Homo sapiens: one gene and its partner. The protein of the gene in region 2 purifies or fractionates together with the protein of the main gene of each other region. This does not show direct contact. Each region holds a gene or a part of one and is shown on either strand. Other genes may lie near its edges.

Region 1 (3,823 bases), on a different chromosome or scaffold from region 2:
GCCTGTAGCCAATGAATGACTTAGATAAAGCTAAAAAAATGCTAGAGTGCCTCAAAGCTAGACTCAACGTGATCTTTGTTCCACAGCTCCCCATGAATGAAGTCAAGGCCAGACCTTATGTGCTTGTAGCTTTTCCTTCCTTAGACCCTGCTTCCCTCTCTCCCACACTGGGTTTTCCTGAAAAGCCCGCCCTCAAAAAAATCACACATACCTGGGTCTCTATCTCAGGCTCTGCTTCCAGGGAAACCAGTTTCAACGGGTGGCACAAAGATCTAATTTATGATCCAGACGAGGGCATTTTTAGGCTGCAAGGGAGCACTATTAATAATCACACTGGGACAACTAATATAAACTGGGTCTATCCCAGACACACCAAGACCACATTGATAGGGAACTTTATAATGATGGGATCAGGCTGTTGACCCTGAAACCACGCATCAGTCTTGGCCGCTCACACAAAGATGACATTATATGCCTCCTGATGTGATGCAACAGAAATAGAACTGTCCAGGTTTTACTATGAAAGTCTGACATCCCCGGCAACCCCTCAGTCCCAGGCAAATGGGCTGCTGAGTCACCCTAACAATGCTGCACACGTAAAAAAACTCTTGCTATAAAATAAATCCTGGCTGGGCGCGGTGCCTCACACCTGTAATCCCAGCACTTTGGGAGGCCAAGGCAGAAGGATCACCTGAGGTCAGGAGTTCATAACAGCCTGGCCAACACGGTGAAACCCTGACTCTATTAAAAATACAAAAGTTAGCCAGGCATGATGGCACACGCCTGTAATTCCAGCTACTGGGGAGGCTGAGGCAGAAGAATTACATGAACCGGGGAGGTGGAGGTTGCAGTGAGCCAAGATTGTGCCATTGCACTCCAGCCTGGGCAACACAGCGAGACTCCGTCTTAAAAATAAAATAAAATAGAGGCGGAGGTTGCAGTGAGCTGAGATTGCGCCACTGCACTCCAGCCTGGGCGACAGAGCGAGACTCCATTTCAAAAATAAATAAGGCCCGGTGTGGTGGCTCACACCTGTAATCCTAGCACTTTGGGAGGCCAAGGTGGGTGGATCAAAAGGTCAGGAGTTCAAGACCAGCCTGGCCAATATGGTGAAACCCCGTCTCTACCAAAAATACAAAAATTAGCCAGTCATGGTGGCACCTGTAATCCCAGCTGCTTGGGAGGCTGAGGCAGAATTGCTTAACCTGGGTGGCAGAGGTTGCAGTGAGCCGAGATCACGCCACTGCACTCCAGGCTGGACGACAGAGTGAGTCTCCATCTCAAAAAATAATAATAATTAATTAATTAATTAATTAATTAAATAAAGTGAAATAAATCCTAAATCTGATCAAAATTTGAGGGATACAGGAACATGTTCAATAGTACTACAGGAATGTAATCAGTCAAATCTAAAATATGGGAAATCCTACAAGACACAGATGACCTGGTTTAAAATGAAATAGCATCCTATTTATAATTGTGATGCCAATTTTCTAAAATAAATTCGTAACTTTAATGCAATTTCTACCCTTCTCAAAGAATTCCTTTAAAATAGTTTTAGGAATTTAAGTGATTCTAAAGCTTATCTGGAAAAGGAGACATGAACTGATTAAACAAACAAACAAAATTAGACAGGCACAGTGGCTCATGGCTGTACTCCTAGCACTTTGGGAGACCAAGGATGGCAAATTGCTTGAGCCAAGGAGTTCAAGACCAGCCTAGGCAACACAGCAAGACTCTGTCTCTACAGAAAAATTTAAAAAGTGGACTGGGCACAGTGGCTCATGCCTGTAATCCTAACACTGTGGGAGGCCAAGGCAGGCGGATTGCCTGAGCTCAGGAGTTTGAGATCAGCCTGAGCAACATGGTGAAACCCTGTCTCTACTAAAAACACAACGAATTAACTAGGCATGGTGGCACTTGCTTGCAGTCCCAGCTACTAGGGAGGCTGAGGCACGAGAATTGCTTGAACCTGGGAGGCAGAGGTGGCAATGAGCTAAGATCACGCCACTGCACTCCAGTCTGGGCGACAGAGCAAGACTCTGTCTACAAAACAAACAAACAAAAACAAAAAAAAGTATCTGGGGGCCAGGCGCTATGGCTCACGCCTGTTATCCCAGCACTTTGGGAGGCCAAGGTGGGCGGATCACTTGAGGTCAAGAGTTCAAGGCCAGCCTGGCCAAAATGACAAACCCCATCTCTACTCAAAATACAAAAAACTAGCTGGGTATGGTGGCAAGCGCCTGCAATCCCAGCTACTTGGGAGGCTGAGGCAGGAGAATCGCTTGAACCAGGGAGGTGGAGATTGCAGTGAGCTGAGATCACACCACTGCACTCCAGCCTGGGCGATAGAGCAAGATTCCATCTCAAAAAAACAAAACAAAAAAAAGTAGCTGGGTGCGGTGGTGTACACCTGCAGTCCCAGCTACTCGAGAGGCTGAAGTGCGAGGATTGCTTGAGCCCAGGAGATCGAGGTTGCAGTGAGCTATGACCAGCCTGGGCAACATGGCAAAACCCTGTCTCTGCACTCCAGCCTGGGTGACACAGCGAGACCATGTCTCTAAAAGAGTAAATAAACTTTAAAAATGAAAGATAAACTACTTTAATTAGTATGATAGTGGTTCAAGAATTGGAGATCATGGAAAATAGATCCTACACCTACTCCAAATATAAGGAACAGCCTGTTCCTTATAGATTTGTTAAAATTAAGGAGAATAGGGATATGTAGGTCGAAGGGAACAAAGTTTCAATTAAACAGGATGAATTTCTGGAAATCCACTGTACGGCAAGGTGACTGTAGTTAATAATAACATAATGGCCAGGCACAGTGGCTCACACCTATAATCCCAGCACTCTGGGAGGCTGAGGTGGGCGGATCACGAGGTCAGGAGATCGAGACCATCCTGGCTAACAAGGTGAAACCCCATCTCTACTAAACAAAATACAAAAAATTAGCTGGGCATCATGGTGGGCGCCTGTCGGGAGGCTGAGGCAGAAGAATGGCATGAACCCGGGAGCAGAGCTTGCAGTGAGCCGAGACCTCACCACTGCACTCCAGCCTGGGTGATAGAGTGAGACTCCATCTCAAAAAAAAAGAAATAAATAAAATAAAATAAAAATAAAAATAAAATAAAATAAATAAAAAATAAAATAAAATTTAAAAAAATAACATACTGTATACCTGAAAATTGCTGTCCTTACCACACCCAAAAAATAATAGCCATGTAAAGTAATGGTATGCTAATTAGCTTAATCATTGCAATCAATTCACAATGTAAATATATTAAAACACCACATTGTACACTGTAAATATAAAATTTTTATTTGTCAACTACACTTCAATAAAGACAAAAATTTGATAGAATTCAACTATGAAACTATATAAGCCTGGCCAGGCGCAGTGGCTCACGCCTGTAATCCCAGCACTTTAGGAGGCTGAGGCAGAGGGATCACTTGAGGTCAGGCATATAAGACCAGCCCGGCCAACATGGTGAAACGCTATCTCTACCAAAAAGTACAAAAATTAGCTGGGCATGGTGGCACGTGCCTGTAGTCCCAACTATTCAGGAGACTGAGGTGGGAGAATCACTTGAACTCAGGAGGCAGAGGCTACAGTGAGCCGAGGTACTTCCAGCCTGTGTGAGAGAGTAAGACCCTGTCTCAAAAAAAAAAAAACTATATAAGTCTGATGTTTTCTTGTGCAAGCCTTCTAACTAATGCTTTGAGGTTTGTTTAATGCTTTTATTTTAAAAATTTTTATGACACTATTTTGGCTTTCCGTTTCTTCTTGAATCCATTTTGACAAGCTGTATTTTTCTAGAAA
Region 2 (3,823 bases):
AAAAAATCCCACTGCCCAGACCACACCAGACCAACTAAATAAGAAAATAAGAAACTTCAGGGAAAGGGACAGATGTCAGGTCAGACCCTTCAGGTTGTTCCAAAATGTAGCCAAGTTTGATAAGCAATGTCTAGGCAGGTGCTTCTCAAATGTTAATGTGCATACAAAACACCTGGGAGATGTTTTACAACTTAAATTCTGATTCCCTGAGGTCTGGGGTGAGGCTGAGGATTCTGGAGGCTCCACAGGCTTCTAGGTGATCCTAATAATGGTGCATCTGGTCTCTAAGGGACAGTTAGGCTCTCCGAGATTCTGAGCAGGCTCCCAGGCGATGATAATGATGATGTACTGCTGGTCTCTAATGACAGTAGGGTGACTCAGGGAAGCAAGCCTAGGTCACAGGTCTTTTTTTCTTTCTGCACCAGCCAGGATGGCTCCACTTTCATCTGTTTCATGCATTGCTATTCTGCATAAAACCTCATTGAGATGGGGAATCTGACCAGCATTGCCCTTGTAATAAGTGAAAGAAGAGGAGAAAATGGGAGTAGCGAAAAGCCAAATCACTCTCTGGGCTTCTCTTAGGCCACAGATGTCCTCCGTGGCTGCTCCAAGGAGCTGGGTGCCTCCTCGTGCTCAGGTGCAGAAATGCACCTTTCTTTCCCCTCTCCGAAGCGGTGCCCACCTTCATGTTCATTACAAGGCCCCTGAGCCTCTCTTAAAAAGACCCTAAGTGAGCACACTCAATCTCCGCCACCCTAGGAGGGGGAACGGAGCTCAGGGACCCCAGGACTTTCCCTGCACCTGAGGGATTTACTTATTGTGCTGAAGGGGGGCAGGAGGGGAAAACAAAACAAAACAAAAAGGGGGAAAACAACAGCAAAACTTAGGCAGCGGAGCAGCAGGAATAGCAGCCTTCCATGTTTCCCGAGTGTTTGGAAGAACATCCAAGTCCCAGCCCGGAGCGGCCTCCGCAGAGGCGCCGGGGTGCAGGGGCGGCGGGCGGCCGCACTTACCATGACTGTGGCCGCGGCCGCGGCTGCCTGGGCGGCCACCGCAGCTTGGTTGGCTTGGTGCTGCGCAGCTTTGATTTTGGCCTGCAAGTGTGCAGGAGGGTGAAAATATTTGCATTTCTCCCTCATGCAACGCCCCTTTATGTAATCCATACAAACGGTTACGGTGTTGTCACTTGTGTCGATCATGGTGCTGTCTGCGGGGTGTGCAAAGCGGCAGTCGGTCTCTCCCCGGGCACAGTTTCCTCGCTGGAACTCCCTGCATACCTAAGACAGGGAAGAAGAGCCGCGCTGCAGAGGCAAGCCTGAGCCCAGGCGCCCCTGCGGCCCCGGCCACCGCGGGAGGAGCGGAGGCTGCCTCGCTTTCAATGGTGGCTCATGTACCACTGACAAGAAAAGATTGATTATGCGGAGCCCAGGTAACCACAATCTCTGACACAGTCATTTGAGTTTTGTTTTACCGCCTTTTCTAGGGTGAAAATCTATATTGAGAAAATAATACGAAATCTGCAGTTCAGCTAAAATAACAAAGGAAAAGCAACAAGGCCTCCATTGTCCCTGGGTAGCATATTATGCAGCTGTCTATCGATCTGTCTGTCTGTCTATCCATCCATCCATATATCTATCATCTATCTATTTATCCATGCATCCATTCCTTCATCTATCATCTACCATCAATCAATCTATCCAATCATCTATCCACCTGTTCATTCATCCATCATCTATTATCTATCATCTATCAATCTATCCCTCTATTATCTATTATCCATCTATCTATCCATCCACCCATCCATCTATCCATCCATCCATCCATCCATCCATCCATCTATTATCTGTTAATCTATCATTATTTTTAATGGTAAAAACTGCAATTACTTTTGCACCAACCTAATATTATCTATCATCTATCTACCTACCTACCATCTATCTATCCGTCCATCCAGCCAGCCATTCATTCATCCATCTATCATCTATCCATCCAGCCATCCATCATCTATCATCTACTGATCTATCTAAAATCTATCAATTAATTAATCATCTATCTAATCTAGTTACCTACCTATCTATATACCTGCTTACCTACCTATAATCTATCTATTTAATCTGTCAATCACCTATAATCTATCTACCTCTCTCTATATCTTCAATCACCTACTTGTATGACAATTCTGACAATGCTATAGGTTTTTTTTTGTGTGTGTGGAGGGATAATTTCACCTATATCAAGCTACCAGGTCATAGCTGTACAAAAAGAATCAGAGAAAATGACGACAAACTTGTTCCTCCTCTCTCTAAGGGGGTGGGGTGGGGTGGGGTGGGGGGAATCTGAACACTCCTGTTTCCCACTCCTTCTCTCCTGCTCTACAAAGATAACATAATCATAAATCAGAAGAACAATATCTAAGACACCAAAATTTTCATTTTTAAGGTCACTATACTATTTTTGACAGCACAGAAAAGAAAAAAAAGACAAAAGGAGAGAAATACGGCAAGAGATATAGAGAAAGAAAAATGGAGGGAAATAGTTTATTTTAAAAATTCTTTAATGCTAAATTATCCTGAAATCTCAAGTAACTAGGATTCTCTATCCCCTGAGAATTCTGGTGGATCAAGATTTTACTGTATGAAAAAATATTTCTTTAGAATTTGAAGAGTATTCTTAATTATGCCCTGCATATAGATAACATAAAATAGCATAAATAACATATGCATGTTGCTTATATAATTCTTCTCTGCTCATAAATATTAGCAGGAAATAATTATGAGTAGAATCGTAAGTTATTTATTTTTAGGCTCCAATTCCAAAGTGGATATGTAAATGATCATCACGCTGATCATTAGTGATGTTATATGAAGGGCCCCTGACATGAAATTCAAGTATTGTGGAAGTCAGACATACTTAGGAAATACTGTTTCACTGACCAGTGACCAGGCCAGCTTGAAGGTAGATAGCATAAATCACCAGATTGTTAATTGTTTCCTCCTACTTTGGATATTAGCCAACATTCTAACTTTAGTTCATAAAATGCGCAAAATAAATCACTAAGATGTTCCCACGGATTCTGAGCAAGCCTTCCTCCATCAATGGAATGACTTCTGTCTGATAGCATCATAGGTGTGGACCAGCCATCAGGCTCCTACCAAGGTGCTTTGTGTGCAGCTGACTTCATTCCTGGTTTGAAATGAACCAAAAGCCGCTCTGCTAAAATCATTGTGATTCATTTTTACATGTCTTTGTCTACCAGCCCTGTTGAGAAGGACAATTTGTTCCCAATTCCACTGATTTAATTTGTTTTCTAAAGTACAGTCACATACTGAACACAAAAGCTCCGTGGGTCCAGCAGGTGGAGCCCAAAACACTTTTCCAGTCCTGTGAAAGGTCTATTCAGTAATTGACAAGGGTAGGCTGGATCTTTTCAAAATAGTAACAATTAGAGTTTCCATTCTCTTCATCTGGGCATCCAGATTGAAACTAAGTGAAAAAATAAATATCTTCTAAAATATTTGCAGTTTGAAATTCTGAGTTTTAAAACTTGCACAGGTTATTAGGCAGCCACATTTTATTGCCTTCAAGGTTTATTGGGTTAATATTTAAACAAATGCACATTGAAAGAACATTCTCTAATAATCCCACTAACAGAAAGCACTGTGTACGTCCTAACCAGATGCATCACCTAACACCTTTAATCAGTAATGGAATTAAAGGAGCTCTCTGAAAAATCTATGAGAATCTTTATACACCCTTATGAAATGCTGTAGTGAATATCATAGGGATATAGCAGTAAGATACATAGATGAGTTCTACAGCTCTG

Evidence for each region.
Region 1: the proteins of MBNL2 (region 2) and ZC3HAV1L fractionate together in Homo sapiens (co-fractionation; one large-scale study listed by BioGRID). This does not show direct contact.

The regions. Positions count from the first base shown.
Region 1 is NC_000007.14:139,029,537-139,033,359, forward strand, and holds part of ZC3HAV1L (zinc finger CCCH-type antiviral protein 1-like), read right to left. Parts: intron 1-3,823.
Region 2 is NC_000013.11:97,344,258-97,348,080, reverse strand, and holds part of MBNL2 (muscleblind-like protein 2), read right to left. Parts: intron 1,278-3,823; coding exon 1,014-1,277; intron 1-1,013. UniProt on the Homo sapiens protein: Mediates pre-mRNA alternative splicing regulation. Acts either as activator or repressor of splicing on specific pre-mRNA targets. Inhibits cardiac troponin-T (TNNT2) pre-mRNA exon inclusion but induces insulin receptor (IR) pre-mRNA exon inclusion in muscle.